Linked DNA regions of Homo sapiens. The protein of the gene in region 1 purifies or fractionates together with the protein of each later gene. This does not show direct contact. Each region holds a gene or a part of one and is shown in the gene's direction. Other genes may lie near its edges.

Region 1 (7,243 bases):
ATTCGCTGACTGCTTCCAGTAGGTTTGCCATGGTGCTGGGCTTACCGAAACACCCTGCAAGGAAGACAAACGACATCTCTAGCTTACAGATAAAGAAACTGAGGCACGGAGAGGGAGGCAAACATTGCTGATCATTTGCCCAGAGTCATCAGCTAATAAACGTCAAAAGCAGGATTTGAGCAGCAAGTTCAGGGCCACTGGCTCCCACCTGGCCCTTTGTAGTGACTTGTTCTGCAGCCCCAGGATGTTCAGACACACACAGTGGGATCTGAATATAAAAAGGCAGAGACTGAAACAGTGGAACATTCCAGTTCGCTCCGAAAAAGGAGAAGAGCCCTGCAGCTTTTGCAACCCCTTCTGAAATCGCTTGCCTGGATCCCCATCGTCAGGGCCAAGCTGAACACCCACCTCAGCCCTTCCCGCATTCAACACTTGACTCGAAGCAGGGCCTTGTCAATTCCTCTCAATTCCTACTGCTCCTCTCCCTCTGCTGACCTCTTATCATTGCCAAGACTCTTTCCTTACACTCGGGTATTGCTAGGTTTCCATGGGCATGAACAGTGGAGTCATCTTTCTGTCAACTTTTAGAATCCTTACAGTTTGGAGGCCAGGTGCGTGGCTCACGCCTGTAATCCCAGCCTTTCCAAGGTGGGTGGATCGTTTGAGGTCAGGAGTTTGAGACCAGCATGTCCAACGTGGCGAAACCCCCTCTCTACTAAAAATACAAAAATTAGGCAGGCATGGTGGTACACACTTGTAATTCCAGCTACTTGGGAGACTGAGGCACGAGAATCACTTGAACTCGGGAGGCAGAAGCTGCAGTGAACTGAGATACTGCCACTGCACTCCAGCCTGGGTGACAGAGCAAGACTCCATCTGAAAAAATAATAATAATAATCCTTAAAGTTTGAAACTATCTTTGAATAAAAATGTACATACGTATTTTTTTGCTCTGTGCGGATAAGGGGTTTGGGAAACAGAGGAAAGATCTCTGAGGCTGGAAGGAAGCTGTGTGTGTAGCTGAAGCTACCTAGGCCGTAGGTGCCTGTGTGAAGACACAGAGTCAGACCCTTGCTTCCTGCCAGGTGAGGGGAGCTTGGAGACCTGATGCCTCCAGGGTTTATTACTCTGCAGTGCTAAGCCCTTGAGCATTGAGTCAGTGGCCCTGAGTAGATCAACATCTGAGGACAAGGGCAGGTGCTGTTAGAGGAGTACGCATGTTTCGGAGCTTGGAGGATGAGGAATAGAATGGAGGGATCTACTTTGAGCATTTCCTCTGCCTATCTGTTGTGTCTGGGAGAGATGCCGAGGAGGAGGAACACGGGTTGAGTCCACATGGCTAATGCAGGGTGGTCCTTAACTTCGACACCTGCAGAGCCCCTTTTGTCATGTAAGGTAACATACTCCCAGGTTTCAGGACTTGAACACAGGTATCTTTGGAAATTGGGGGCAGCAACAGAGACAAGGTTGGACCCGCTGAACTTTACTCCCTATCTAAACCAGTGGTCTCCCACCTGGGACACAGGACCCAGGACCCCCAGGTGCCCATGGCCTCGTCTTCAGGGGGACCCGTGACCCTTTTAAAAGTGTAGGTTGGGGGAGCCCCTATAGGTTGAAAAATGCGCTTTCATGGAGCAGATTTTTTTTTTTCTGAGACAGAGTCTCACTCTGTTGCCAGGCTGGAGTGCAGTGGTGTGATCTTAGCTCACTGCACCCTCTGCCTCCCAGGTTCAAGTAATTCTGCTGCCTCAGCCTCCTGAGTAGCTGGGACTACAGGCATGCACCACTATGCGCAGCTAATTTTTTCTTTTTTTTAGTAGAGATGGGGTTTCACCATGTTGGCCAGGATGGTCTCCATCTCTTGACCTCGTGATCTGCCTGCCTTACCCTCCCGAAGTTCAGATTCTCTTAAGGAGTTGTTTCTTCTTCTGTGGCTTCAGAGGAGGCACAGCCGGGCTGGTCAGGACAGGGCTACTGTCTCCATTACACAAGCAAAAAGGCCTCCAAACTAATTCCTAGAGATGTGGAAAGCCAATTTGCAGGCTCTTATGTTCTCTGTCTAGGACATATGGAAACTTCTTGATGCAAAAGAATGGCCTCCCCTTTTCCTGGAGTGCAATCCCAGCACCTGGCTGGATGTGCACGCTCCGGCTCGTAGGTCTGTCTCTGGCCAGCTCTGAACCCTGTGTTCTACACTCCGTGAGAGTGACCGCCGATGGAACCTGCTTGTACCGCCTCCAAGGCAACACTTGGAAGACTGGAATAGTTAGAATACAGTATGGCCTTTCAAAACCATAGTGTCCAGCTTTCCTGGATCACAAAATCAACTGGGCAGTTCCATCTGCCAGCCCTTCCCCTCTGCCTGTCAGCCATGGTGGAGATGTCATCAAGAACACTAGTATTGGACGCCAGGCACAGTGGCTCATCCCTGTAATCCCACTTTGGGAGGCCAAGGCAGGAGGATTGCTTGGGGCCAGGAGTGTAACACCAGCCTGGGCAACCTAGTGAGACCCCATGTCTATTAAAATAATTTTTTTGTTGGGGCATGGTGGCTCACGCCTGAATCTCAGCACTTTGGGAGGCCAAGGTGGGTGGATCACTGGAAGTCAAGAGTTCAAGACCAGCCTGGCCAACATGGTGAAACCCCATTGCTACTAAAAATATGAAATTAGCTGGGCATGGTGGTGCATGCCTGTAAGCCCAGTTACTCAGGAGGCTGAGGCAGGAGAATTGCTTGAACCTGGGAGGCAGAGGTTGCAGTGAGCCAAGATCACACCACTGCACTCCAGCCTGGGCAACACAATAGGACTCCATCTCAAAAAAAAAAAAATATATATATATATGATATATAATAGATAATATAGTATATTTTATATGATATATATGATATATTATCTATATGTATCATATATTATCTATGATACATATAATATACAGATAATATATGATATAGATAATATATGATATATATCATATATATCATATTATCTATCATATATATCATATAATAGATATTATATATGATATATATATTTTTTTTAATTAGCTAGGCATGGTGGCATATATCTGTAGTCCAGCTACTCAGGAGGCTGAGCCATGAGATCGCTTGAGCCCAGGAGTTTGAGGCTGCAGTGAGCTATGATCATACACTGCCCTCCAGCCTGGGGAGCAGAGTGACAGAGTGAGACACTCAGGAAAAAAAAAAAAATGCCGGACGCCAGTATATGCTAAACAGCCCAAGATGCCAGCATCCAGAGAGTGTGCATATTCCTTGTGTGGATGCTGGAGCTGGGCCACCTGGTACAGGGACGTCAGGCTCTGTGCCAACCCTCATTCACAGCAACTGCGGGCTGTGGAGCCGGGTATGCCCTTGCTGCAGAGGACCTGAGACACCCACCAGGCTCTCTTGGAGACACAGTTATATCAATAAAAGGAGTTAAGTTTGAGCTGTATTTATTTTAGGGTGGCTTTTAATTTGGTTTAATCAGAATTACTCATAAATTATCGATTAATTACCTTCTGCTGTTCAGTTAAATCCTCTCAGCCACGGAGCCAGCTTCGCTGCGCAATGAATGCCATCCACCGTAATTATAGGGCACTTTGTCAGCATTTAATCAGCGGTACTTATTAATGTGGCATTGATGTGTGGTGGCCAGCCCCACGCTATCCATCATGGGTGAGCAGCCAGCACAGATTTGGACACCATTGCTCTCTGTCCCATTAGCCAGCCCCTGGGCTTTCGGGCCAAGCATCATGCTCGCTTTTCACTAAATGGACACTCTGTCTCTTCCATTCAATCCCATTTTTATCACTGTCGACTTAAACACTCATAAGCTTTTGAACTTCAGTCCAGAACGGCTGAGCAGGGCCTGACCACTTCTCCCAGTGAGTGTGAAATCCCAAGAGACTGGTCCGTGATCGGACATCATGGCATGGCGTGCATGTGTAAGAGAATTTTATATTCAACACAGCGTAGCACCCAGAGAACACAGAAGTGATCTTTTGGTTTTCTTTGGCTTACTGAATATTTTTGGAGATTCTTCTATTCCTGAAAGCTCTTCCAGTGAAAGCTATCTTGTGTTGGCAAAATAGATCTGATAGTGTCCTTTCTCTGTCTTTGCAGCCTCTACGGCAGACACATGCAGGCCAACCCAGAACCACCGAAGAAGAATAATGACAAATCGAAAAAGATCAGCCGGAAACCCCTGGCAGCCAAGAACAGATAAGGAAGGGATTGGCATCGGCTGGCCTTCCAGCACCTTCTCTCTCCAACACTTCATTCTCTCTTGCCCTGTCTCTCAAATAAACCCAATGCTGCGTGTGAGGCCTTTTTTATTTTTCTTTTCACTCTCTTTCTAATGCTTCCCACCTTACCTTTTAGATTCTTTTGCTAGGTGGGAGATTGTTATAAGGTCTTTAAACCATTTCCATTTGTTTCTTTAACATTACCAAAAGCAGGGAACAAAGCTCTTATTCAACTGCGAATTCCATAGTGGGCTCTGGCTTTTCTTGAATAGATATCACAAGGTTGCTTATTATCAAAAGAATAATTAAAATCATGTAACCATTTAAATGTCACTGTTAACACTTTTCACTCTTTCTGTTGATTCACCTAACTCATTATTTTGCTTTATTAAAAGTCTTCCTTCACCACCGAGATATGCTAATTTAACTTACAAATGATTTTAATAAAATCTTGAGTTTGTATCACATGTTACTTATTGACTCAGAATAAAAGAACAGTCTGATCTTGGGGTATAACACATTTTCATTTACTTTTCTCCCCCAAAATCATCTTATCCAATTTTATTGGTTATACATGATAAACTTTTCATGAAAGAAATGCAAAATTAAATCACAGTTCGTTTCTTCTCACATTAATTTGTCAAGTTTTTTTTTTCTTTGAAGACTTTCTAAATTAGGAAGCAGAAAAACAAATCTCTAGGAGATTCTGCCAAAGGATTTTGGAAAGTAGCATTCCTTCGCCGAAGAAATGGTGATTTCTGCCAGGGGCTGGTAGACAAGAACTGTGAAAGAGAGAGAGAAAAAACCTCAACTGTGTATTTTGTCACGGCGGAAAATCTGCTCGCATCGAAGCATTCTTCTAAGCGACTTCGATGCCAAGGAAGTTGTGTAAATGTGCACGCGCTACACCACACCCAGGGTGGAAACCACAGTTGCAGAGTCATTAAACAATCAATTGTTTGTTTAACATCTGTGATAGGCAGCTTTCCTTCTTTTCAACAGTGATACCTACGAAAATCAAAATAAATGCAAGCTGAGGTTTTGTGCTCACTGAAAGGGCTGTCAACCCCAGAAGGCCGACACAAAAAAAATGGTATGTGAAGATGCACCGTCTTTTCAAATGGCCTGGGAGAGTCAAATGGCCTGGGAGAGGGGGCCTGCCCTTCTCTGCTGTGTCCTTTCGGCTTCCCAGTTGAGCTCCCAAGACCAGGACCCACTGGGGCATATAAAATCTCTGCTGTATCCTTTCGGCTTCCCAGTTGAGCTCCCAAGACCAGGACCCACTGGGGCATATAAAAAAGTCAAAAATCAAAATCAAACAACAAGTTCTGAGTTACTTAGGAAACAGACTTCGCATTTCAATCAGAGAGGCCACAGAGCAAGGTCTAAACTTCTGGCTTCTAGACAAATTCCTGATAGAACATTTAAATGTGGGAAGTGGCTTCCCCAGGTCCCATCCCCTGTTTAGGGATAGAGTTGATATCATTTTTATAGGTGCCATGTATGCCTCTGCCTGAATTTTTTTAATTGACTTTTGAGCTTTTGAGATTGCACGAGGGAGAACAAGGCCTTTGCTGTTGTGGATAGGAAAGACTTAACCTAAAATTAAACCAGCAAGAAAGCATTAGTAAAAATCTAACAATATGAAGGGCTCTTATGAGTCATTTTTTTCAAAAGATGAAAACTCCAGAAACGCACAGGAACGAAATACCTCCCAGAAACATGAAGCAATCATCGAAGACTCACTGGTAATATTTTTAAAAAGTATACAGATCAAAGCAAAAAGAAGCCATGTGTAACAAAGAGAAATGTGCAAATATTTTTTAAGGCAGTATTAAGTGCAAGAGGAGTAACATGAAATAAACATTCTTTCACATGGCTACTGGGAATATAAATTTCGCTCCAGAAAGGCCGTAGCAGTTTGACGATAGGTGGCAAAACCTTAAGATTGTGTACTGGGGCCCAGAATTTTTATTTCTAGGAATGTATCCTGAGGAAATTATCCGAGATCCCCACAAACTGCAATGTTTAGGAATTGTCCTTATAGCATTGCATACACAAGAAAAACAGAGAAAAGCCTGATCCCTGTCAGTGGAAAAGGGGTTCAATGAATTACGGTGTGTCTGCATGAGGCTTTTATGACATTAAAAATTGTTGAACAACGGCCAGGCACAGTGGCTCATGCCTGTAATCCTAACACTTTGGGAGGCCAAGGTGGGAAGATTGCCTGAGCTCAGGAGTTTGAGACCAGCCTGGGCAACACGGTGAAACCCCGTCTCTACTAAAATACAAAAAATTAGCCGGGCGTCGCAGCATGCGCCTGTAGTCCCAGCTGCTCAGGAGGCTGAGGCAGGAGAATTGATTGAACCCGGGAGGCAGAGGTTGCACTGAGCTGAGATTAAGCCACCGCACTCCAGCCTGGGCGACAGAGCAAGATTCCGTTCCCAAGAAAAAAAAATTGTTCAACAATAAGGGCAAAGGGAGAGAATCATAACATCTGATTAAACAGAAAAAGCAAGATTTTTAAAACTAACTATATAAGGATGGTCCCAGCTGTGTCAAAAGGAAGCTTGTTTGTAATACGTGTGCATAAAAATTAAATAGAGGTGAACACAATTATTTTAAGGCAGTTAAATTATCTCTGTATTGTGAACTAAGACTTTCTAGAATTTTACTTATTCATTCTGTACTTAAATTTTTTCTAATGAACACATATACTTTTGTAATCAGAAAATATTAAATGCATGTATTTTTCAAAATCAAATTGGTATGTCATGGTATATTATGCAATCCAGGAAATATATATTTAAGCTCAAGGCATAATATAAAATGTCAGGAGGGTTTTTTCTCTTTTTGTTACCAAAATGGATTTCACGTCTTTTCCTACAGTTTTTAGTTACTTGATATCTGGATCAGCAAACAAAATATCCAAAGTTTGAAAGGTGGCCTTTTTTTTTTTTGAGACGGAGTCTCTCTCTGTCACCTAGGCTGAAATGCA
Region 2 (7,782 bases), on another chromosome or scaffold:
ACAGGCATGAGCCACCATGCCCAGCTGTAGATTTTTATTGAAGTATAAAATACATACAGAAAATCTGCTGAAAGTACTATGTGTATGTCTCATTGATTTTTAAAAGTGAATATATCCACGTAACCAGTATCCAGATCAGGAAACAGAACATTAGCAGCTTCAGTGGTTTTCCTCATGCCACCCACTCCATTCTAGTCACTACACCTTCCAAGGCTAATCAATATCCTGACTTCTAACATTATAGAGTAGTTTTGCCTGTTTGTGAACTTTACTTGAATACAATTATACAGTATGTGCTCTTTTGTGTCTGATTTCCTTCGCTCAACATTATATTGTAAGATCCATTCCTGTTGCTGCTTGTAGTTGCAAATTGTTCACTCTCATTGCTGTGGTTATCACAATCAATTCAACTGTTAACAGGCAGCTGAATGGTGCTGCTGTGAACTTTCTAGAGCCTATCTCTGTGTGTACACATGTACTCATTTTTGTTGGGTATAACCTATAATTGAAATTGTTGATCATAAGGTATGTATGATGGTTGGCTTTAGTAGGTACTGCCTTGGCTTCATTTTATAGATGATGGGAAAAATAAATGCAGAAAGGGAAGAGATTTACCCAAGATCACCTGGCTGCTAAGCTAAGATTGGAACCTGAGTTTATTCTCTTCCAGTGCATTTGTCTAGGCCCCAATTTCAAGAAGAGGCAGCCTAGAGATTCAGCAGAGTCTTACGTATCACACATTTAATTGATGATCTGTCCTTAGAATCAAATCCCTTGGGTAAGATGAAAACAATGACCGAGCATGAGAGGAGGTGCTGTTCAGTGGGGACATAATTGTAAATACCAATTTAGAGTGGAGGGAGCTGGTACAAGGTCTTCCCATCCTATCAAAGAATAGCATGCAGCATGTCTCTAAGTAAGATTTAGATTCAGCCTACTTCAGTGCCAGGCCCTGTAGATGGTGCTTTCCCACAGATTATCTCATTTACTCTTCTAAACAAAAACCAGATCAATTCACATTCTTAAGGATTCTAAAAGCATTATATCAAATGAGAGTAGATGAACTCTCTAAGTAAACACGAGCAATGTAGAACAGTGCTTCTTAATCTGCTAAAGGACCAATTCATCATAGAGCAATATTTTTGTAAATAAAAATAAAAAATTACTAGAAAAATAGAATGAAAAGATATTCAAAATATAAGCTTCTGATTATTGTTAGATTAAACAGACATAAAGTGTTGTTAAATTGCTATAAAAGTTTCTAAAAACTCTCAATTTCTACATTTATGTCATTGGCTAATTGTTGGGAACAGGCCCCCCAAAATCTGGCCATAAACTGGCCCCAGAACTGGCCATAAACAAAATCTCTGCAGCACTGTGACATGTTCATGATGGCCATAACGCCCACGCTGGAAGGTTGTGGGTTTACCGGAATGAGGGCAAGGAACACTTGGCCCGCCCAGGGTGGAAAACCACTTAAAGGCGTTCTTAAACCACAAACAATAGCATGAGCGATCTGTGCCTTAAGGACATGCTTCTGCTGCAGATAACTAGCCCAACCCATCCCTTTATTTCGGCCTATCCCTTTGTTTCCCATAAGGGATACTTTTAGTTAATCTAATATCTATAGAAACAATGCTAATGACTGGCTGGCTTGCTGTTAATAAATACGTAGGTAAATCTCTTTTCGAGGCTTTCAGCTCTGAAGACTGTGAGACCCCTGATTTCCCACTTCACACCTCTATATTTCTGTGTGTGTGTCTTTAATTCCTCTAGCGCCGCTGGGTTAGGGTCTCCCCGACCAAGCTGGTCTTGGCAGCTAATAATGGTATCCAGATCAATACTGGTTTGCAGACTACACTGTGAGTAGCACTGATTTATAATTCACCACCCATTCCCACTGGCCTTTCCAGAAAGATTGATAATGATCTTACCAGTAGAAATGCTTGAATAACAAGGTATCAGCATAATATTGAGACCCTGGCAACCATTCCCACCAATGCAGGTTACTGCATACATTAACAGGACTTTATCGTTCCCCTGTCTTCCAAAAATTTCTTGCCCAGGAAGATAAAAAGCTATGAATAACTTTCTTGTTCTTTTCAAGAACTCCCCACCAAATCTCATTGAAATGAACATAAACCCATTAGACTTTTCAATAGATAGCATTAAAAAGACTATTTACTCTCCAAGACTCTTGGAAAGCTTTGCCTAGGGTCTACCAGTCCTTATCTATTATATCATGATCCTTAGTCAAACTTAATCAAGCACCATCCCACTGGAAGGCCTGTCTTCATCAAGATTCCAAAACCTTATAAATATCCCTTCCCCTACTCCAAGATGCTACTGAGACTCTGCCAAGGCAGGGCTCTCCTTATCATGGTGTACAAAAAATTCAGCTTTGCCTTCTTCCACAGCTTATTTTGCTGATATTTTCTGGGAGCTAGCATTCAACAATCAAGACTTTACTCCTCCTTTTAGCCTTGCTCAGTGGTTTTCCAAGTTTAACGAACATAACAATTACTGAGGAGTATTATATATGCAAAAGCATGCATGGGCAACTGAAGGAATCTCCATGGGTAATTTTGATTATGGCACATTTAGGACTAAGCCTTGCATACAGATATTAGCAATTTTTGAAAGAATAAAGAACCACAGACTGTTAAGAGCTGAAAGTAGCCCTAAATGGCAAGACATCAGGGTGTGAATCAGCTATTAATACATCGAAATCACCTGATGTAGTCTGTTTAAAAAACACCTATCCCTTGGTTTCACCTGAGATCGACTGAATCAGAATTTCTGGAGATGGGGCCTGTGAATGCAACAAACTTCTAAGCGACTGTGATGCACGATCGAGTTTGAAAACCACTGTTCTGTGCCAACCATTTCATTTTGTAGATGAGGAAATGGAGACTCAGAAAAGGGAGTAAACCTTTCCAAGATCACACCGCTATTGAGCTACGTGTCTCTTAATTCCCTGACAAGAGCTCTCGGGGCTGGAGATACGCTTTTGGAGATGTCCTATATCTGATATCCTGAACAAAAATGATTAATGATGTAATCAAAACACACTTATATTTTGGCTTCTCACCATCCCTTTAAGATTTATTGTCTAGGAGGAGTTGTAGTAATCTTCCCAGGCTAGCAGACATCATGACTTTTCTGCTGTTAAGTAAGAGGCACCAACTAAAGCAGATTTTTTTTTTTTTTAAAAAAGGTAAAATTAAGACTCTTAAGATAAAATGAACCTATACGGTGTTGAGAATCTGTTGACTATCTTTTTGTTAAATTTTAGTTCTACTCAGAAACTGTTGCTTGTCACTTTATTTAGTTTAAGGAACTGTGGATGGGTTAATAAAAGGCTGAGTAACATCTCCTGGGAAGAAGCACAGCTGGCCCTGGCAGGAAGTGCAAGTGGGGTCTGGGAAAAGATTCAAGGTCCAAGCAGCTACTCCCCACGGTTTCCATTACTCAGACCACGTGGCTTCTTGAGCACACTTCTTTGCTCCATTCTTTGGTTTCCCTACTCCTCAGCATGCACGTGGCTAGAAACAGCCACCCTAGTTTTGATTGCGAATGATCATCAGTCACGAGCACAACTTCTGACAACAGTCTCTCCAGCTTAGTGCAGTCTTAACTGGGGCCAGCTGATCGTCTGCTCTTCAGTAAAGCAGTAGCGCCCTTTGGATTAGGTGTTCACCCAGGTTCAATCAGCTGTGGCCTAGAAGGGGCCACAAGGAGGAAACACAGTTGCCAAGGTGCTGTGAGTCTGTGTGTGAGAGACAGACAGAAGGACAAAGAGCCAGAGTGAGAACTTGAGATGGGTAAGCTCAATAACACGTGCCTTTTAATCATTTCCAGTATGAGTCCTTCAAACACTGTGCTTTGTATGACTCCCCTGTTATCTCAAATGAGTCTGGTTGTCACTCTCTTGCTTTTATTTAGGCAGGATAAATTTTGCGGGAAGTCCTGTAGGAGCTCATGGTTGTGCTTTTCCCATTCATGTTTCCACCACCACGTGGGATCTTCCTTTGTATAAGCTGCTGGAAACACGGATGTCTTACAAGAATAAGAAGCCTCGGCTTTACCCTTGTGCACTCCAAGCTTCTCAGTCTTGGATGGGAGTAGAGACGAGGAGGTTGACGGTCATGGATAGGTTCAGGAGTGATTGGTTCTGCCCACTTTGGTGGGGCCTGGACACATTTTGGTTCACTGCAATAATTTCTTCCAGGAGCTGCAGTCTTGTGGGCGCAAGACGTGGGCCTGATAACCCCACAGGCAGTAGTGCTGGGGCAGAGCGAGCTCACCAGCCGCCGGCTGGAAGACCCCGGGAGAGTAGCAGGGTTGGGTTGGTTCTCAGATGTGTTTTGCGCCAGGCTGTGTGGTGGGGACAGAGCCTGGGTAAATGAAGCTTTCCGGCTCGACCGCTCCCAACCTGGGCACACACGTCCTCCTGTCCTGCAAGGGGCAGTTTTGGGGCATCCTCCCTGCTTGGGGCAACCCAGGGGCGCAAGGCGCGGCCCCGGGAGCGCAGCTCCTTCCAGGGCAGAGGGCGGCGCGAGGGAGGGAGCGAGGGAGGGAGCGAGGGAAGGGAAAGGCGAGCGTGAGCTGCCTCAAATGCTTGGAATAATTCCGCTTCCGTTTGGAAAGCCGCAGCCTCAGTCCCGCCGCCGCCCGCTGCGTCCGCCCAGCGCCAGCTCCGCGTCCCGACCGGCCCGCGGCAGCCTGCGCCGCGCCATGGCCACCTCCCCGCAGAAGTCGCCTTCTGTCCCCAAGTCTCCCACTCCCAAGTCGCCCCCGTCCCGCAAGAAAGATGATTCCTTCTTGGGGAAACTCGGAGGGACCCTGGCCCGGAGGAAGAAAGCCAAGGAGGGTGAGTGCGGCCAGGCCGGCCGGGCGGGCGGTAGGAGCCGGGGGTGCCGTAGGGGCCGAGGGGCCGGGGCACTGGGACCGGGCGGGAGCGCGCCGCGGGTGCCCGGCGCGGTGGGGCGCGCGGCGATGCGTGCGCGCGCTTCCCGGGTACGTCGGGCAGGAGCGACGCGCACCCCACACTGAGCCCGGGGCTCGCGGGCCATCGAGGCCACCCCGCCCGCTCGCGGTCGCCCGGGCGCTGCCCTCCTGGGCCGGGGACCAGGCCAACGCCCCCGCCGGGCCGTGGGCGGGCGCCGCTTGGCGGCCGGAGGCGGCGGGACCGGAGCCCAGGCGGGGCCCCAGCCCGCAGACAGTGCGATCCAGTAGGCCCTGCCCCGCCCTCTGCGCCCGAAGGCTGGCATTTCCCAAGTTTCCGCTGCAGCTTTCCTGGGCGCCGTCGCTCTTACTCGTTGCCTTCATTGGTCCTTAAAATCAGGTCGTTTCCTGGACCTGCTGACGTCCTCTGGCAGCGGCGTCGTGGCTTTGGCCTCTTCGGGATCTTTTGTCCATCCCGAGGGCTGAGAAGGGCTCTGTTAATGGAGTAGGTGGACATCGAGTGTTTGTTGAATGAATGAGCGAAAAACTGGCAAACCTAGCGTGCCCTCGGTGTAATACACAATAAACTCCCACCAAAGGAGAAAACCTGCGTGAGACACAAACTTCGTCATGGGCCTGCTGTGAACTCAGGCATTCAGGGCTTTCGTAAAAACCTTTGTTTTTTCCCCACCAGAGTGAATTGAGGCGACCTTATTCTTTTTTTTTTTTTTTTTTTTCAGGGTAGTTTGCATGTAAAATATTTTTTTTTCCCATGCACAGATTTTGCGTCCTGGTTTTTGGTTTGAAAACGAGGTGGCAGTTCTCAAGAAGCACTGTGGTGACTGGTGTGTAGATAGAAGTTGCTGAGTTAAACATTTTTGTTTTAAACATTTTTTAGTTGATGCATGATGTACATAGTTCTGGGGCACATGTGATAATGTAATACATTCATATAATTTGTAAAGATCAAATTGCACAGGAAAGGGGTCCCAGTCCAGACCCCAAGAGAGGGTTCTTGGATCTCACGCAAGAAAGAATTCAGGGTGAGTCCACACAGTAAAGTGAAAGCAAGTTTATTAAGAAAGTAGAGGAATAAAAGAATGGCCACTCCATAGACAGAGCAGCCTGGGGCTGCTGGTTGCCCATTTTTATGGTTATTTCTTGATGGTATGCTAAACAAGGGGTGGATTATTCATGTCTCCTCTTTTTAGACCATATAGGGTAACTTCCGGACGTTGCCGTGGCATGTGTAAACTGTCCTGGCGCTGCTGGGAGTGTATCAGTGAGGACGACCAGAGGTCACTCTTGTCGCCATTTTGGTTTTGGTGGGTTTTAGCCGACTTCTTTACTGCGACCTGTTTTATCAGCAAGGTCTTTATGACCTGTATCTTGTGCCCACATCCTATCTCATCCTGTAAGTTAGAATGCCTTAACCTTCTGGGAATGCAGCCCAGTAGGTCTCACTCAGCCTTGTTTTACCTGGCCCCATTCAAGATGGAGTTGCTCTGGTTCACATGCCTCGGACAAAATCACTGTACTTGGGATATCCATCACGTTAAAGATTTGTCTTTTCTCTATGCTAGACCACTGGAATTCTAGATATTTTGAAATATACAAGAGGTTATTGTAAAATATAGTTAGTTTACCAATCTAACACTAGGTCTTCTTATATCAAATGGTATATTTGTAACCATTAATCAACTTCTCTTCCCCCCTAAAAAATGTTTTTAATAGATTGCTCCATGAATTAGAAATAACCTTTTGAAAGCTGTGATGCTGTGTGAAATTTTCATGTTTGTAAGTCATCTTAAAGTATAAAAACATCTTCAGCGCTGAGGATTATCAGACTTGATGAAGAACTAGACTTCTATTCCCTAGATTGAAACGAGAAGCAGCAAAAACATACAAAAGTTTCCCCACATTGGTTATTTTGGTAACCCATCGAGTAGTGTACAGTTGGTGGCAAATCATGAAACCCTGGCTTGGGAAGCTCTTTTCTAGACCATGTTTCTAACTTCTTCCTTGCAGCATTCCTGACATAGTCTCATCCAGTTTAAGATGGGGCAACTGAGAAATATTGAAGCTCATGACCTACCAGGATAACCATCTTTACCTACTCTGTAGAAATTTATCTCTCTGTACCTATCACTGTTGGTAGAGCCAGAGAATGAGTCTGGGGTGGCCTTTTATTACTACCTTGCTGAAGTAGGCTATCCTGCTTTCTAGAGTCTTCTCTCCACCAGGCCCAACATCCTCTATTCCTCACAGACATAATTTTAAGGACTTTTGCATCCTGTCTCTTTAGTTTCAGACAGGGTCCCTGCAGGAAAAAGAAGGCCAATTTAGTTGAGATTTTGAAAATAATTTAGTGAAAGGGCTATTGACAGAGCTGTGGGCAGGGTTAAGGGAACTAAGAAGGGATGCTGAGGTCCCTAGGGGCTAGCAACAGGAGGAAGCTCTTAATCACTCCGAGGCCTGAGGGACAAGGGAAGCAAATTGGAACCTATTACAAGCTGGGGTTATGGACGAGGGGCTGCTGGACTGGAACTATAGTCATAGAGGGATGCAGCTACTGTCCGAAATATGCAGACAGAGCAAGGAGAGAGTGGCACAATAAATGCACATTCTGCATGTTCTCTGTCTTCTTGCCCGTGCATCACCTACTGGTGCTGAACCCAGTGGGAAGCCATCAGAGCAAGGGATCTGCAATAGATAGGGGCAGCGTCCATAGGGCACAGAGCAGTGCAGAGAATAGATCACAGTGGGGACGGTGGAAATGGAGAATACCTAGCAGATCAACCTGTTACCAGACCCGCTCGAAGTGAGCTCTCCAGA
Region 3 (7,243 bases), on another chromosome or scaffold:
AGGGAAACATGTCTGTGTTTGTTTTGGTCACACATTCATTCATTCATCTGATGAATGAATGTTCATTGGCTTACATGTGTCGGGTGGCTCTTGGCTGTAGAGACACAGTGGGAAACAAGAGAGATGAGCCCCGCACCCTGCGCCTGCCCACTCCCCCAGCACACATTCTAGCAGAGTGAAGAAAGAGAAGTATTATGGGGTGGAGTGGTTCAACCTGAAACCTAGATGATGTTTTAAAGGAATGACAAGTGCTAGGAGGAAAGTAATAGAAGGTTATGGGGTACAGTGGTGGGTGGGGGTTGGGGAAGGCAATCCAGGGAAGCTCCTCTGGGGAGGCGACATCTGAGCACATGTCTGCACAGTGAGCTTGGGAAGGGCGTTCTGGGCTGAGGCTCTAAAGCGAGAAAGAGCCTGTTGTGTTGGAGGAGCAGTGAAAAGAAGCGGAGGCGGGGCCCAGGTGGCAGAGAGGGAGGGAGAGAGCCAAGAGATGAGGCTGGGGCCAGATCTCATTCAGCCCTGCTAGACAACAGTCTATTCCAAGTGACAGGAAGCCATTGGAGGTTTTGGGTAGGGCTGTGACGTGGATTGGGTTAGAGTTTAAAAGGTCACTTAGGCTTCTGGGTGCAGGATGGATGGGGAGGAGAGTCAGGAGTTGGAACTGAGAGATCAGTCAGGACACCATTGCCATGGCCCAGGCATCTGATGAAGTAGCTCAGCCCCCAGAGTGGAAGGGCAGACATGGGGAGGTACTGTACAGTTAAACTGCCATAGGAACCAAGACTGATGGCCAGGTTTGTGGCTTGAGCAACTGGTAAATGGGAAGCCGTTGGGAGTAGGGTGGGAGGTTGGGAAGGCGGGGGTCTGTGTTGTACATGCTGGGGCTGAGATACCTGCCCTTTTGGAGGTGATGCTGAGCAGGTGAGCCTGGAGTCCAGGCTGCAGTGTACGTGTGAACCCAGCAGCACTGAGCTGATGTTTAGCACCGTGGGACTGCACGGCTTCACCCAAAGAGGGTGTTCCAAATTTTATTTGGCTGAATGCCGAATGCCCAAGAATTAACATCTATATTTGGCTAAGGTGAGAATCCCCATCTTAGAATGAGATCCCATGGTACAAGAATAAGTCTGAAATGTTCATCAAGATTGTGTCATAATTATCACAATTTTATTATTAAAAACGTTAGTGGCCAAAGTTTTGATGTTTTGCATTGCAGTATCAGTACAGTCACACCCAGCACTGTTGGGTACCACTTGCTCTTGAGGTCTTCAAACCAGACATTTGTGATGCTAGATGCTCACTTTCAACTCAGAAGGCTGGAGGAGCACGTGGACCTTTGGCTGATGCTGTCTGAAGGGATACTCCTCATGTGAAGCTGCCCCTGGGCTGTCAGTTTTTCTCTCTCTGAGTGGCTGGTTATGGTAGAGACTTACCTCCTCTTTGATCTTGGATGTGAAGATTGGGCTGTTGCTGGTGATGGCCCTCTGTTGAAGCAGTCCCCCCAATTGGTACTTTGCTCCCTACCTGAAGCAGATATTTTCTAATATTTTCAGAAGCAAACTTGAGTGTTTTGTTCACTTTCATTTTTTATTTCTGATTCTTTTGCCTGCACCTGTGGCTTCTCCCACCCAATGACTTGAAACAGTATGTCAGCAAGCCTTGTATCTGGCAGCCTGGCTGTGGAACTGGCCCTCAGAATCTCAGGACAGGCTCTGAATTTGCATCTGCATCTCAGCCGTGGTTGCCTGTAAACCATGCCAGTGCCTTCTATAGAGCAGAATTACAGGGGCATCTTTAAAGCTGCATCTTCCCCTCTCAAGGCACATCCTTTTGGTTCCCTCTTCAGTTAGTGCTAGCAAATGCAGCACTTACTCCGGAGTTGCTGTGATTGTCCATGAGTCCTGCTATATCAGTTGTGTTATCCATAAAGTATAACATGAGGCTTCCTTTGGCTCAAGCAGCCTTTTTCTTGTGGAGTAGCTGCTGTTCCATCTTGTTTGAATAATCACATAAGCACTTGAGAAGGCAATTCTAAAATCTCTTGAGTGTCAAGTGGTTTGACATATTAAAACCACTTTTTTTTTTTGTACTGAAAAAAAGAACAGTGGACTAGAATATTCAGATAGTAACACAGCATCAGAATGTCTTGCCTCATTTTGTGAATGTTGTTACACTGAAATGACATAATATACTGTTGATGTGAGATCCTCTTGATGTGATACTACTGATGTGATCACCTGATCCTTGAGCTCCAGGATGCCAGGAATGACACTGATGTAGGCATTCAGCTCTTTGGCTTTCCAAAGGCAGAAGCCCAAACCAAATAGGAGATTTTAGCTGAATACCAAGGTCAAAGCCAACTTCTGTGCATCCGTAGTAGAGAAGAGGTCTGAGGACTGGGTCTGGGCTGTCAGCCATTAGTGGTCAGGAAGAGGAAGTTCTGGCAAAGGTCAGTCACAAGGGAGGGGGAGCCAGAGGAGTGTTGCATTCAGGAAGGGTAAAGGAGGTGTTTCTAGGAGGTGAGAGGAGGAAAGAGAACAGACTTCTGGTTTGGCCATGTGGAAATTGCCCAGAGTGAACCAGCAGGACCCCTGAGGAGTCCCTCTTCTTTTTTTTTTTTTCTCTTGAGATAGTGTCTCACTCTGTTGCCCAGGCTGGAGTGCAGTGGCGTGATCACAGCTCACTGCAGCCTTGACCCCTAGGCTTGGATGATCTTCCCACCTCAGCTTCCCCGGGAAGCTGGGATCACAGATGCATACCACCATGCCCAGATAATTTTTGTATTTTCTGTAGTGCTGAGGTTTTGCCATGTTGCCCAGGCTAGTCTTGAACTGGGCTCAAACGATCCTCCCACCTTGGCCTCCCAAAGTGCAGGGATCACAGGGATGAGCCACTACACCCAGCCGAATCCCTCTTCTTGAGAGAAGATTCTGGAAGCAGCTGCCGGGTTCTCTGCCACATGCCAGGTTTCTGGGGGTGTAGCTCCCCTGTGTTTGCAGTGCAGCCCTCAAGGTAGACTGCATATGGCCAGAGTGAGGTGCCCGTGCTGTGGGAGCTCCTGGCTGTCGTCCTGCTGGTCACTCACGGGCACACCCTCTCCTTGTGAAGGTGAAGTTCTTCATCACATGTGTACTCAACCCCCATGTGGCCATCACTCAGGGTCACCTGCTACATGGGAGAATCCTCCCCAGTTTTCTCTCTTTCTGTGCTAGGAAGATAGGGGTCCTGGCCACAACAGAGCCCTGAGCTGCTCCTGCGGCCCCCGCCAGTGGGCACAGTGATGTCTGATGATGCAAGTGATCATGTGCCGTATTCTCTGTTGCACAGGAGTCACCCAAGACCCAGCCTAAGGCAGCACACAGGCATGGCCAGTCTCTTTGGTCTCTGTTGCCTGCTGTTTCCACCACCAAATTCATATTTTCAAGTCCTACATGCAGGGCCCACCCATGTGACCTCATTTTACCTTAACTGCCTCTTTAAATACAGGCACATTGCAAGGTATGAGAGCCTCGCCCACTAGGAGAGATGGGTAGCCTGGCAGCCTCCCACTGTCCCTGCTACCAGCCAGCCCTGCAGGTTGAACCTCGGAATGTGACTGTATTTATAGAGATAATAATAGGCTGGGTGTGATGGCTCACACCTGTAATCCCAGCACTTCCGGAGGCTGAGGTGGGCAGATCACTTGAGGTCAGGAATTCGAGACCAGCCTGATCAACATGGTGAAACCCTGCCTCTACTAAAAATACAAAAATTACCTGGGCGTGGTGGCACATGCCTGTAATCCCAGCTACTCGGGAGGCTGAGGCAGGAGGATCGCTTGAACCTGGGAGGCAGAGGTTGCAGTGAGCTGAGATGGTGCCATTGCACTCCAGCCTGGGTGACGAGAGTGAAACTCCATCTCAAAAAAATAAAAAAATTAAAAGAGGTAATGAAAGTAAAATGAGGCCATACGAGTGGGTGGGCCCTAATTCAATATGTCTAGGGTTCCTATAAAAAGAGGAGATTAGGACACAGACATGCACAGAGGGAGACCAAGTAAGGACACAGGAAGGAGAGGGCAGCCATCTACAAGCCAGGAGAGGGGCCTCAGAAGGGTCTACCCTGCCGGTGCCTTGATCTTGGACTTCTGGCCTCCAGAGCTGTGACATAAATCTCCGTTGTTTAAGCCGCACGGTGTGTGGCATGCTTCGTTGCAGCAGCCCAGACAAACGAATCCAGTGTCCTCCGCTCCTCTGCCGACTCCTCTTCCTCCACCCTGGGTGACGTGGCCATGTTCAGTCTGCGGGGCCGGATGGTGGCAGGTGCAACGGGGGCGCGTCAGGCTTCCCATCTCCCTGGTGGGCGAGGCTCTCAGACCACCCAGTTCTGTATGATCCTATCTCTCTCCTTCCTTCTCCAAGCTGCCCTGCTCTGCCCTTTCCATGGTTGTTGAACACCTGTGGGACCTACTTGCTCTCTACTTCCAGGGCGCAAATTCAGACAGACAGCTGTGGATGACTCAGCGAGGAGCTGTTAGATCCAGATGGAGGGAAATCAGATGAATAAGCGGGAATCGTTTCCACTCCCCTGCAGGATGTGTTTTGTTGGGCTGCTTTGTTTTTTCTCTTGCAGTCATTGCCACCCAATCAGATGTTTTTTACGGGTGTTTATCTCCCCACTAGGGACCTCTGTTATCTGTGCCATATCCAGCACCTAGGACAGTGCCTGTCCCATAGTAGGTGTTCAGTCCCTATCTGTGAGCCAACAAACGCATGATCGAAGGGGTATTCCGAGCCCAGCAGGCCTTGCTCTAGAATTTTATTATCTTGAAAGGGATGCCAAAGCTGTTTGTTTTCTAATTGAGGGAGGGGAGGCTGCTGGGGAGATAACACTGAAGACATGGGGGCCTCCAGCTAAAATGTTTTAAACAGAACTTTGTGCTGGGAACCACTTGCAAAACAGAAACCCCATTTGTGACTGGCCTGGACTTGATTGCTTTCATGATGGCATGTCAATGCCGCGTCACTGACAGCAGCTGTGTATTGAAGGCTCTGTGCTGAGTGCTTGCAGTCACCCTCCCAGTGAACCATCTCACGATGCTCTGTGACGTCGCTTTTGTTGTTTTGCAGAGTGGATCTATCAGTAAACACTGGAGTCTTAGAATCGAAGACTAGCAGGGAAACTGGGGGTCCTTCCTGCTGTGTGGCCCTGCAGCGGGCGTGGGGTGGGGCGCTGGTGGCCGGCACCTGCCAGTACCTACTGCTAACAAAAGGGAAATTGAAGGAGGTGCAGGCTGGGCTGGAGCTCAGTCTCAGTAATTGAATCTTGATGAAATGTGACAGTTCTTGTCTGTGCTCCTCCGGATTGTTTCCTGTTCATTCTTGGTAATAAAATCATCGCCAGTTCTGTGAATATCTAATCTAACTTCCTATTGTGGCATTAGAATGTTTAAGAAACAAGAATGGGAGCCTCAGGTGTGTGGGGAGGCAGAGGCAGCTTTTAAGACCTTTTTTAAAATTATCTTTATCAGTCCTCTCCCTTTTGGGACCCACAGGGACAGTCTTCTCACCTCCTGACTCCCACTTTCATTCTTCCCAGGTAACCTCCTTGCCTCTCAACTACATCTTATTATGTTTTTTCCATTTTGTATGCATAGAATGTTCCCGAGTATAACACCCACAGTTTTATCCTTAACTATTCTTCCCTTTTCAATCTGGCGTCATTCTCTAAGGAAGATTAGTGACCTGGAAGCTCAGCGTTCATGGTTCAACATCTCAAGACGCCCCCATGGCCACATGGTAACCTGCCCCGCTTCGGGGACCTCCTTGAGGCTGGGGTCTTGGTGGTTTTGAGTTCCTCCAGTATATCTCTCTCCCCTTCCTCCCTCCCTCCCTCCCTCCCTCCCTCCCTCTCTCTCTCTCTTTTTTTCTTTCTTCTCTCTCTCTCTCCTTCCTTCCTTCCTTCCTTTTTCTTTCTTTCTCTCTCTCTCTCTCTCTCTTTCTGAGGCAGGGTCTCACTCAGGTTGCCCAGGCTTGGGTGCAATGGCATGATCTTGGCTTACTGCAACCTCCACCTCCCGGGTTCAAGCACTTCTCCTGCCTCAGCCTCCCGAGTAGCTGGGATTACATGTGTGCGCCACCACGCCTGGCTAATTTTTATATTTTTAGTAGAGACGGGATTTCACCATATTTGCCAGGCTGGTCTCGAACTCCTGGCCTGAAGTGATTCACCCACCTCGGCCTCTCAAACTGCTGGGATTACAGGCATGAGCCACTGCGCCTGGCCCTTCCAGCTTTTTCTGACCCTCTTCTCTTGTGCTTCTCATTGCAGAAAAACTGGCAGGGTGCAAGCTGAATGTGGCTGAGGTGACACAGTCCGAAATAGGGCAGAAACAGAAGCTGCAGACGGTGCTGGAAGCAGTACATGACCTGCTGCGGCCCCGAGGCTGGGCGCTCCGGTGGAGCGTGGACTGTGAGTTCCACGCCACAGGGGGAGGGACTGTCTGGAGGGAGCCCGTCCTCTCGACATTCGTCATCCACATTTGTCATCCACATTCATCATCATCCCATCTGGCCTTGCATCTTAAAATTGGGTTCATCTCCCTGCTCTGTAAGAGGTAGAACATTGCAGGGGAGAAGAACAGGAGAAGGGTTAGGGAGATCCTAGAAAAGGGACCTGGTCAGGCCACAATTCTCCATCCTCCCCATGCTGCAGAGGAGAGAGGCAATGTTTATGGATGGGTGGATCAGAGGGACTTTGAGAGAGAGAAGCAGCCTTGGGGGGTTCTTGTTGGGACTCAACCCCAAATACTGGTGGCAGCAACACCTAGTGGGCTGTTTGTCTATGACCCTGGCATTATGAGATGTGACATCACGGTATTTTCAGCCAAGACATGAACCCGGCAGGTGAAAGACTAAACCAGGAGAAGCTGGAAAGTTCTCCTCGGTCCTGCCCACTCCTTCCCCACCTCCCTCCCCTGGAAGCAGGGCCATGAGGGTGTGGCTTCAGGGCTCTCTGTGCTGGGCCAGAGGTCTCCGTGCTTTGGTGAGCTGGGCTCTCAGTGGTAGGCAGGAGACCCTGGAGCCTGGCCTTGCACCCGGTTTCTTGGTATCGAGACCTTGGGCAGACCCAGGCTGTCTCGTGGGTGGCTGGGTCCGTGGGTGGGGAATCGGGTGCCTTGTAAACTGTAAAACCCTGCAGGAGAAGTGGTGATGTTGACCAAACCTGAGTCCGCATGCTGAGGAAGAGAGAGGACAGACTCAGGCAA

The links. The genes of interacting proteins can lie anywhere in the genome.
Region 2: the proteins of RSU1 (region 1) and PARVA purify together in Homo sapiens (affinity purification with mass spectrometry; 5 studies listed by BioGRID and IntAct, with this or other methods). This does not show direct contact.
Region 3: the proteins of RSU1 (region 1) and PARVB purify together in Homo sapiens (affinity purification with mass spectrometry; 3 studies listed by BioGRID and IntAct, with this or other methods). This does not show direct contact.

What each region holds. Positions count from the first base shown.
Region 1 is NC_000010.11:16,590,377-16,597,619, reverse strand, and holds the end of RSU1 (ras suppressor protein 1), read left to right. Parts: intron 1-4,123; coding exon 4,124-4,226; coding exon of another isoform or gene 4,227-4,359; 3' UTR 4,360-7,009; downstream 7,010-7,243. UniProt on the Homo sapiens protein: Potentially plays a role in the Ras signal transduction pathway. Capable of suppressing v-Ras transformation in vitro.
Region 2 is NC_000011.10:12,372,911-12,380,692, forward strand, and holds the start of PARVA (alpha-parvin), read left to right. Parts: upstream 1-4,660; 5' UTR 4,661-4,737; coding exon 4,738-4,873; intron 4,874-7,782. UniProt on the Homo sapiens protein: Plays a role in sarcomere organization and in smooth muscle cell contraction. Required for normal development of the embryonic cardiovascular system, and for normal septation of the heart outflow tract.
Region 3 is NC_000022.11:44,125,181-44,132,423, forward strand, and holds part of PARVB (beta-parvin), read left to right. Parts: intron 1-6,306; coding exon 6,307-6,447; intron 6,448-7,243. UniProt on the Homo sapiens protein: Adapter protein that plays a role in integrin signaling via ILK and in activation of the GTPases CDC42 and RAC1 by guanine exchange factors, such as ARHGEF6. Is involved in the reorganization of the actin cytoskeleton and formation of lamellipodia.